Regions from separate parts of the Homo sapiens genome. Here region 2 is linked to region 1. Evidence: fine-mapped expression QTL. A gene starts in region 1. The other region holds a variant in brackets. All regions are shown on one strand. Distances are between the middles of the regions.

Region 1 (5,394 bases):
TCATTCTAATTTATCGATTAACAATACCAAATACTCTAACAGAAATATAGTTAAATGACGCTTGATTAAATATTCTTTCGTCTCTTCTTTACAGAATTTCTCCTTGGTACACTCAAGACTTGGGCTATACTCATCAGTTATTATCAATATTGTGAAATAGAAGGCTTTTCCAAAGAGACGCTGAATCATGAAGATAAATATTCATTATAGTAACCTTTTATAAATAAGACATAGACCAAAATTACACATTTCAGAAAAAACTCATATACATGAACTCAATTCTGAATATATAGGATGTTTCTTCTAATGATAAATCTAAACATCATTAGAATAATGTACTCACAACACTATAAAGCCTCAACTAACCTTTACAAATTTCTATTAACGTCTATATGTTCATTTTCTAAATAGAACAGAAAACCTTTGGCTCAGAAAACTACGATGTTCACGTAGGAAAGTTTATGCTTCTTTACTAAAATATATACATTTTGTTCTAATTCAGAAATTTGCAGATAACTGAAAAGAACAACAAAATTGGATTAAAGTGAGTGGAAATTTTGCAGATCAAAGTAAAGACTGCTCCCACAAAGGGCAGCCTCATTTCCAGAATGGTTTCTGGAATATCTTGTACAAACTTGAAAGAATTTCGTTTTATTCCCCACTGTCATCTGATTAATCATAAACATTACCCAAAACACTCATTACATTCCATCATTTCTGCATACAACAGTAAGCAAAACTGCTTGTTTTCAAAATGCCCTGAAAATTAATTTAAATACATGTTTAATATCTATTGTCAGTTTCTCTGATGGTGTCAAAGCAATTTTAAGGTTTCATTCTCATTATCGTGCCATCTTAGATTGGTGACTCTCAATGGGATGAGAAGTGGGTGGGGGTGAGAATTTTGCCTGCCAGGGGACACTTAAACAGTCTGGATACATTTTTGGTTGTCTTTAGTAAGACATCTTTGGTTGCTTCTTTAGTAAAGAAGCATCTGGGGGAGTGCTGCTGGCATTCTGGGATAGATGCAGCCAAACATCTTACAGTGCAGAGGATAGCTTTCCCACACTAAAGAATTAGCCCAAGTCTTTAACAGTGCTGATGTTGATAATCCCTGCCCTGGATCACTGCTGTGGAATAAAACTTTCCACAGTGTTGGAAATGTTCTGTATCTGAGCTGTCCAATATGGTAGCTGCTAACCACATGCAGCTGTTAAACACTTGAAATGTGTTTAAACTTGAAAATTCAGTTAAATTTTGGTTGCTGAAAATATTGAGAACTTAACGCCTCTAGTCGTACTTGATGATTTTCAAAATCAATTAATAAAAATATACTTACTGCAATATTGCTGTGAAAATGAAAATAAAAAACAAAATTTTTAATTTTATCAAATTTTAATAACCACATATGACTGGTGGCTACCTTACTGGACAGCACGTCCCTAGATACTTCTTTAAAAATTTGCGAAAATATCTACAAAGACAATATGAGTGAATTTCAGACAGGATGATTGTTCATGCCTATTTCTTTTTCCATCTATTTTCTGATGGGGCATTACAGAAAGGACCCAGGGACTGATCATAAGGACATGGTTTTAGATTTGTTTATACCACTGACCAGCTGTGAGGCCTTGACTGTATGGCCTTAACCACTTTTAACTTCTCTTGTCTACAAAACGGATCAGAGAGCTCTGAAATTCCTTCTGGAGCTAACACTTTATAGTTTTGTCATTCAGCTTTCAATTAACTTGTAGTATACTACTGAAGTAGGTCAGCAATAAGTTAATAACTCCATTCCTTTCCTTAACAATTTGTTCATATAGATTTATTTTGCAGAAAGTTTACAAAAGCTATGGTAAGTGTGCAATACAGAATACTGAACTGGTAACTATCTCCTGAGAGGCAGGTAAACTGCTAGAAAAGATGTGGATTAGTACATATGAGTCTCTGTGCAAAGTTTATGTACTATTATTTCTTTCTTGGAGTACTAATATTTATGTAAATATATGGCAACTGCTTCTAATCGGTGTGAACTAGTGAAATTAGATCATCTGTAAAAATCAAATATATGCTATAATGACATAATACTCTAAGACATATCTCAACTATTTTTACACAAAACATACTGACAAAAAAATCCTTATAACATGAGCACATGGATAAATGTAAAATGTATTAAAGTAGAATAACAGAACCGAGATTCAATTACCACAAATACTTTCCTAGGTTTAATGTTCTTCTTTCTGATGTACCCGATCCTCCTCAGGTTAGAAAAATCCTTTCACCAGATAAAAAGCCGAAGAAATATTGTAACTTAAAAAAATTTAATTAAGTCTACTTAATTCATGCCCTTTGTGCCCAGCTGGGAGTTATCAGGTATTTATATTTTAAAGGGATTGATGTTTAAAGACATGCTATTGTTCTCTTTGAAGCATTCGAGCGCTCTCAGAGGCTGGGTTCTAATGCAACCAGCATGTGCTCTCCTGCAGCCCATTAACCTTTAATACTTGTCACTCAGCTGCTTACACAGGAGGAGTTTTTTAAACCCAGAGAGGAAACAAGGTTATTTAGAAGGAATCAAATGGATAGTTTTACATCTCGAATGTTAAACAGAAGGCAGTTTTTATGTAATTCAAATGGGTAAGTTGAAGAAGCAAGGTCAGCTACTACAACTTAATTATTAAATTAATTAAACATCGTATAAAATAATTTTGAAGGAAGTTAAGTTTACTTATCCATAATAAGAAAGTCATGGGACTTTTGCTGTCAACTAAAATATCAAGCGAAATTATTCTAAATATAATTTATAACAATGCATACTGCTATGACTATGAGTTCTCAAAAAATAAGAATTTGTTTCTAACTTTATAAGGATCAAAGTTCTAAGAGCTTGGATGCTTATGTTGCTTATTCCCGAGGAGGAGGATGTGGATGCACCCCCATGTGTACGTAAGGACACACGAGCTAAAGGCTTTACCTGACCCAGTAAAAGTGTCAAGCGCTCCATCTCCAGTCGTGGCTGTGGTTTCACTGCTGTTCAAGGGCTCTGTTTTGACTGCAAGAAGAGACACTACGTAGAAGAATAAGTACATGTGAGTTTTACTTCTAAATTTATGTCAAAGACTCTGTCCGTTCTACTAGTGATATTTCTAGCTACCATGGGCATGCAAGAGAAAACCTGAGAAGTTGATGAAGAGAGTTTGTTAATTTAGCTTCTAAACGGGCATGCATTTAGAGGATTTAATCTAAAATCCTCTGGCCAAGCTAGTTCTCTCAAATCCAGCTTTTAAAGGCAGTCAGCCTTAAAAAGTGAAACAGCAGTACACATATTTGTATTTTTAATTCACCTAAACACACTCTCATATAGTCAATAGGAAAGAAGGAATCATCATCAGTCTTCAGCACATTTAATTAAAATTATACCAAAGAAATTTACTAGCTTATATTTTATTTTTCCCAGGAAGATATTTTTTAAGTTTGCATAATAATACAATGGAGACATATAAAAGTATAGAAACCATGGGCTCATTCACACAATGAATGAAAAATGAAGCACTCAATGAAGCTCTAAAAAAGACTCACGAGCTATAAGGTGTTGGGCTTCATACTTTAATGGCATAACAATTTTTAATATGTTTAGAGATAAGCGTAGAAAAAGAGATGACTTCTACAGCAGCAAGTACACCTTTTGAAAACTCATTTTAATATGTTATTTCTACGTGGTAATGGTGTATTTTGGCAAAATCTTTGCTTGGTAACAAAGTGGCCTAGTACACATTATTATCATTATTAGATGCAACAAGGGTGATGGGGCGTGAGAATAAAGTTTTACCCATTTGGTCACACCATATTTTCCCTTTGTTGGCAAGGCTTTACTACATATATCATAGCAGCAAGGAAATAAACTAAGCTATTTTCTACTTAACACCTCTTGTGTTTCCTGGTCATAAGTGAAATGAATGATACAGTTAAATAACTTAGAAGCAAGCAGAAAATTATAAAGAAGAAAGCTGAAGACTAGCCAAAGGACAAAAAAGAACAGTCAGTCATAGGGTACCCACCAATCACACAAGTCAGTAATGTTATTCTGTTAGAAAAGAAATTAATTGATAGAAAACCATGCGGTAATGATTATGCTCTTTTCCACATGAACAGAATTAACCAGACCTTCAGTGAGCTCTGGGTTAATTTAGTATCCATTATTTATTAATGACATGATCAGCTGGAAGATTCAGAGGAGAAATGTAAATGTTGGAAACAGAAAGTAAAGAAACTTGGATTACTTTTCTTAGCAAAAAAGCAAACTCAAGTTTGACTTATCTTTCAAGAGCAACAATGATCTGAAGAGTAGTCTAATTATTTATATAATGATAAATAATGAATTGGTGGTTATTACTTTTCAGTAGTAATTTGCACAGTAATCCCTATTATGGTTATACCTTATCAATAACTAAACCTATCATTATAAAATCATTTTATCACCTTTATATTTACTACTATAAAACTAATACTTATTGAGAGCTTGCTACGTGCTAGATGATGTACATTTAGCTAATCCTTAAAACAACTCTAATTAATACAAATCACTATAACCATTTTATAGACAAGGAAACTGAAGTTCAGGGGGGCTGAAAAGCCTGCATAAGTTCCAGTGCAGGAGACGGTAGAGCTAAGATTTGAACTCAGGTTTTTAGCTCTAGTATGCAGGATCTTTCCACCGTATCAGGCTGCCTTCAGGTACGAAAATAGCTTATGCTCATGACAGTGTCTCTTCTCAAAGGCCCAAAGCATGATGAGAATGCAATTATCTCCTAGATAGAATAATTAAAAATACTTCACTGAAAATAAAAACTGCAAAATACTGGAATAGGATACTAAGGCATGTTTCCCATTTCTTCCTCATGGGATATTTTAAAAGACATCAAGAAGTAGCAAATTTGAAATTAGGTAACAGTAACAGCACACCCTTAAAATGAACTTGATACATTCCAGGCACTTCTCTTGTCCTTTACACCTACTGATTTACTCCTCTCAACAGTCAGTAGATAATATCATCATCTTTATTTTTCAGATAAGGAAACTGAGGCACAAAAAGGTTAAATAACGTCCCCAGTCACAAAGCTTGTAAGAGCTAGAATTTGAGACCAAGTAGTGTGTGTTCAGAATCCAAACTCTTAAACCATACTGCCTCTCAGGCAGCACTAGCTAATCAAGAATTCCTTTTGTCTGTATGAAGATAATGCAGAGTATAATCTAGATGGGTATCAAGGCTACTCCATTTCACGCAATGTTTACAATTGAGTTCTAACATTTATGACAAAAAGTCATGGCCCAAAGCCTTCAGCAAAACTAAGAAACAGTTTATCAGAGCTTCTGACTTCTACTTGCAGCTAA
Region 2 (5,394 bases), 83 kb before region 1:
AGACAATGCAAAATACCCAGCTAAATGTGAATTTCAGATACACAAATAATATTTTTGTTAGTAAATGTCCCAAATATTTCATTATTTACTGTTTACCTTAAATTCAAATTTAGCTGGATGTCCTGCATTTGTATTTGCTAACCTGGCAATGAACCCTAAGAAGAATTCCAGGGAGCAGGCCACCACCCCTTTCCCTGCCCACATTGCCACTGCCCCTTCTAGCAGGCATTCCCTTGCTTGAGTGCCCAGAACTGGTTGAAGACCTGCCTCTTTCGCCCAGATGGTCAGGCCCTCCTTCCTCTGCACACACACACTTCTTTCTTCAAACTCCCACCTAAGGTGAGAATTGTCTCTGTGCCTGTCCCCTCATCTACTCTCCACCCCCAGGCAGGATGAGGGGCAACATGATGTCAGGAGCTGAGTCTTAGTAGTGCCCAGCACACCGGGGCTCAATAAACGCTTGGGAAGTGACTCAACCGCACTTCCTGAGCACCCTGGCTGACACAGTGAAGCAGGACCATTACCTTACTTTTCAGTAGAAAACAATAGGAGCAGAGACAATATGAAAGCATTACCCTTTCTGGAACATTGCCAGCACGCTCATGTCTCCCCATTCCTGAGGATACTGTATCCTCCAAATACAGTGGCATGCTATTTTTGGATTTCTTCTATCTTACAAAAAAATACATTTTTTTTTGTTTTTATTGTTATTTGTTTTATTGTTAATTTCCTTTAGAGGAACCTCCACAGAAGGCAGACTCTTTAAATATTATCTCATTTAACTCTCACAGCCAACCACAAGAGATGGGTAATGGTTAGGGATGGGAAGTTTAAGGCTCAGTGAGGTAATTACCACAAGGTAGCAAGAGTGCTCTCTTGCTACCTGGATGACTCAGGTACATCCTACTCTGAATGTGCTCTTTCCAATTGACTGCGCCGATTCATCTCACTTTTCAATCTGTTTGCGTCAGTGCCAGCTTCATCCTAGAGGGAGGCGGCCAGCCTCCAAAGTAGCCCCAGCGATCCCCTGCATCCTGGTATTAACATCCCATGTAGCCCCCTCCCACACTGTACCATGCTTGAGCTATATGACAAATGGCATATGGCAAAAGGTACACCACTTCTGAGGTTAGGGTAAAAGACTGCAGCTTCCATCTTGGGTGCTCTCTTGCTAGCTTGCTCCACCTCTTCCTCTTGGATCTCTTTTTGTGAAAAGCAAGCTACCATGCTGTGACTATTCTCACGGTGAGGCCTATGTGGCAAGCAACTGAAGACTCCAGCAAAGAGCCAGGGAGGAACTGATTCTTGCCAACAACCACTTATGTGAGCTTGGGAAAGAATTCTCCAGCCCATCAGGACTTGAGGTGACTGCAGTCCTGGCTGATACCTTGATTCTAATCTTCTAAGAGACCCTGAGCCAGAACTGTACAGCTAAGCTGCTTCCAGCTCCCTGACCCTCTAACGCTATGTGAGATAATATATGTTTGATGTTTTAAGCTGCTACATTTTGGAGAAATTCATTATGCGGCAATAGAGAACTAACACACAAGGAGACAAGTAATCCTCCAAGAGGTTTTCTGATAACAGTTGCGTAGAAGAAAACTTCAGATGTCTAAAATCACACTATTTAGCCCACTGCTTGCCTCAGCTCCTGAGATGATGATGGACAAAGACCTTGTCTTAAGGTGGAATACTGGGGTCTAAGCCTTGCTTCTAATGTATCAACTATGGAGAGAAAATCGACTTAGGGATCTTTTTTACACCATCTAGCAACTGGGGAGCAAGCATTCCCTCTTAAAGCCTTGACTCTCCCCAAGGCGCTGGTGGGTGGTTATTTATGGTTATTCTGAGTTATTACTGCATAACATCCACACAGGCAGTTAGCACAGTATTTATTGAGCAGCCTTTAATGATGAATAGAGTGAGAAACACCAGGCAAAGAATATGGTAATAACAGTACATAAATTTTATTTTCATTTAGCATGAAAACACCTGATTTCCTTCAACACTGTAAACATGTCACATTATTACACAGTGAAAGGCTGATGAATTTAAACATTCATGTGTACATTGTTTTGAATGGAAAATGTACTTTCATTCCACTTGCCTCCACCATTACAGATCATTTTGTTTTATTTATTTCACTTTAGCTTGTTTTAATTAAAAAAACAAAATCCGAGGAGAGAAAGTAACTAGAAGGTTTTCTCAGGATGGGATTGGTTATTTTCAAGACATTTGACTTCTTATTCTCCTCAGAAACAGAGAGACAGCCTCAGAATAGAACATTTTATGGTCAGAGTTGGCAAGTACCTCACGGTTTGTAGTTAATAAACATGATTAAACTAAATGTTCAGAAGGAAATTTTGCTAGACCATTTTTTTAAAAAAACAAAACACAATGAATGCACTCATTAATTATGTACAATTTTGTCATTGGGTAAAGAAAGAAATTTCAGGCTAGGAAGGCAACTTATTCCTAGACATAACGTTAAATAAATACGTGCCTTCAAACTTGAATTATTGCCCTGTAAAAAGACAGACAAATGTCTCAGCAACAGCTTCATTACTGTCAAGCTC[A/G]TGATTTGTTGTTCCATTGACATGATGATGTGCTTTCTAGCACTAAGGTCTTGTCTGTTGTTGCAATAGAAACTCTTATTTTTAGAATTTATCATTTAGTTATTTAAAAAAAAGTTATAGTTGATCAAAAAGCATGGTAAATAAGCTCTCAGTATGCGTGCCAGTATGGGTGTATTGGAGTTACATTAGAAATGGGAGAAAAGGAACACCTATACACTCCTAACTACTACGCTAGTCCTGTTAAGCAGAATGTTGGAGGCTTAACGTGATTCAGCAGTGCCCTTTCTATTTAACACATTGCTTGCCTATGGGTGGAACTGTCATAGGTCAGGGTTATAGGTCACACATTTTTCCAAAGAAGAAAAATTAAGGAGTGGTCATAGGATGTGGCATCCTATTCACTAAGTGAGTTCTAAATTGCATTTCACAGATAATTTGATGTGGTTATGGGATGGCGCTGGAATGCAAGAAACAGATGGAGCACTGCAATTCTAGTCCTGGATATCTGTGTTCTTAAGAGGTGTGGCCAAATCGCAGGGTGACACAGAGTGAGGTGCCAGGATTCATCCAAAGCACCACAGTTTAGAGGGGAAAATATTTTAAAGTAACAATGTTAAACTATTGTGAGACATTTGAAGCCCCTTTCCTTATAAATAACTATCCATCTCTTCCTAGTCTCACATGTCTTGGCCACTATATAGCTGGAAAGAGCAGAAGACCTAGGGAATAACACAGTCAGGAGTCCCAAACTCACTTTTTATAATTTGAGTAATCGACTCCAACATCCTTTCTTCTTTAACATCTTTTATTCTAATCAATCCTAAGCACTGACTAGAGGGCATGCTTTGAGCTGCTGGTTCCAAGAATTAACATTTCCAACTGGACATTCATGCATACTCTCTTGACCACAGATGACAGAAACTAAAGTCAATCAAGTTCAAGGAAAAAAGAATAAAAAAGTTTTGGGCTTACAAAACTAGAAATTCCAGGCATGGTCACTGAGTTGAAGTTCTGTCTCCTGACATCCTAAAACCAAATTCTCTGACAGCATCAACAGGGCATGGGTTCTGAGCTGTTTCCCACATGTTGGCTTCATATTCAGATTCTCTCTCAATGTGGTAGGAAAGATGGTTCTGGCATTTTAGGCTGACATAGTCACCAGAGATCCTAATCCCAGAAAGACAGTGCATCTTTCATAATGACTTTGGAGAAAAGTCTTGGGGTGAGTTTTCATAGGCTTAGCTTGGGTCCTGAGCCCATTCTTGGGCAAATAAATATGACAAAGAGGGTGGAATATGTTGATTGGCTAGGGTTCAGCCATATGCCCAGGAGTATGGTGTTCCCTAAAAAGAGGGATGCTTTGTATACACACAAAAGTCAAGTTTACTATGGAAATGGTAACCCAAGGAATGGGAGAAAATGTCTGCAAATCTTGTATCTGATGAGGAGTTAATATCCAGAATATACAATTCAACAACAACAACAAAAACAACCCAATTAAAACATGGGCAAATGATTGAATTGACATTTCTCCAAAGATATACAAATGGCCAATATGCCATAATCATTAGGTAAATGCAAATTAAAACCACAATAAGATATCACCTCACACCCATTAGCATGGTTACTATAAAAAACAAACAGAAAATAACAAGTGTTGGTGAAGATGTGAAGAAAAGGAATTTTTGCACACTATTGTTAGAAATGTAAAGTGGTGTGGCTGCCATAGAAAGTATGGCAAGTATGGTAGTTCCTCAAAAAATTAAACATAGAATTACACAAGATCCAGCAATTCCACTTCTGGGTACATATCCAAAAGAACTTAAAGCAGGGACCCAGTTATTTGTATACCCATGTTCATAGCATCATTATTTGCAAGAGCCAAAAGGTAGAGGCAACCTAAATGCCCATCAATGGAAAAATAGAGAAACAAAATATAGTATACACACATATTATTAGTCAGCCTTAAAAAGGAAGAAAATTCTAACATAGGCTACAAAACAGGAGAACCTGAAAGAAATTTTGTTAAATGAAATCAGCCAGTCACAAAAGGACAAATACTATATGATTCTGTTTATATGAGGTACTTCAAGTAGTCAAATTCGTAGAGACAGAAAGTGGAGGAGTTGCTACAAGGTACTAAGGGGAGAGGAGAATGGGAAGTTATTGTTCAATGGGTAGAGTTTTAGTTTTAGAAGATGAAAAGAGTTTTGTGGATGGATGGTGGTGACAGCAGCACAACAATGTGGATGTACTTAATGCCATTGACTGTACACTTAAAAATGGTTAAGATCGTTACCTTTATCTGTATTTTACCACAATAATAAAAAAAAAAATCATCTCCACTAGGCGGAGGTTGCAGCGAGCTGAGATTGCGCCACTGCACTCCAGTTTGGTGACAGAACAAGACTCCGTCTCAAAAAAAAAAAAAAAAAAAAAATCATCTCCACTATAGAATTTCAGAAAAGAGGTAAACTTGGCTACATAGCTTTTCTCCACTTACCCTTTAGGAACTTGCTTCTGAACATCTTCCATTCAGATACTCCTAAAATCATAAATCATGCTGACTCAATGCTCCATCATGGTTTATTTTTCCTATATTAGGTGGCCCCAGAACCTTCCTAATTCCCCACTCTAATCAGAAGCCTGTCCAGTACCCTTCTTGGAACCATGCTGTAGGTTAGGGAGCCTGTAAGTCTGTTGTATTAAGAGCAGTTGATATGCATGCTTAAAGGTGTTTTAAAAGGGAGGAATCTGCAAAATGTATCTTAACTTAAATGCAAATTAATTGAGCAGCTTTAATTGAATAGTTATCTCT

The links. PIP is the estimated chance that this variant, and not a neighbour inherited with it, causes the effect. A credible set is the group of variants that fine-mapping cannot tell apart.
Region 2: its variant is the best candidate, but not a certain one, in a credible set for the expression of EYA4-AS2 in transverse colon (GTEx, PIP 0.77).

What each region holds. Positions count from the first base shown.
Region 1 is chr6:133,454,232-133,459,625 of GRCh38, reverse strand. EYA4-AS2 (EYA4 antisense RNA 2) reads left to right here and starts at 3,021. Exons shown (of 3, transcript NR_199014.1): 1 at 3,021-3,092. EYA4 (EYA transcriptional coactivator and phosphatase 4) reads right to left here. Exons shown (of 20, transcript NM_004100.5): 6 at 2,978-3,070.
Region 2 is chr6:133,537,724-133,543,117 of GRCh38, reverse strand. All of the region lies in intron 5 of TARID (TCF21 antisense RNA inducing promoter demethylation), which reads left to right. Among named protein-coding and RNA genes, the nearest start is that of EYA4-AS2, 84 kb to the right of the region's middle. The variant A/G (reference allele first, on the strand shown) is at 2,577.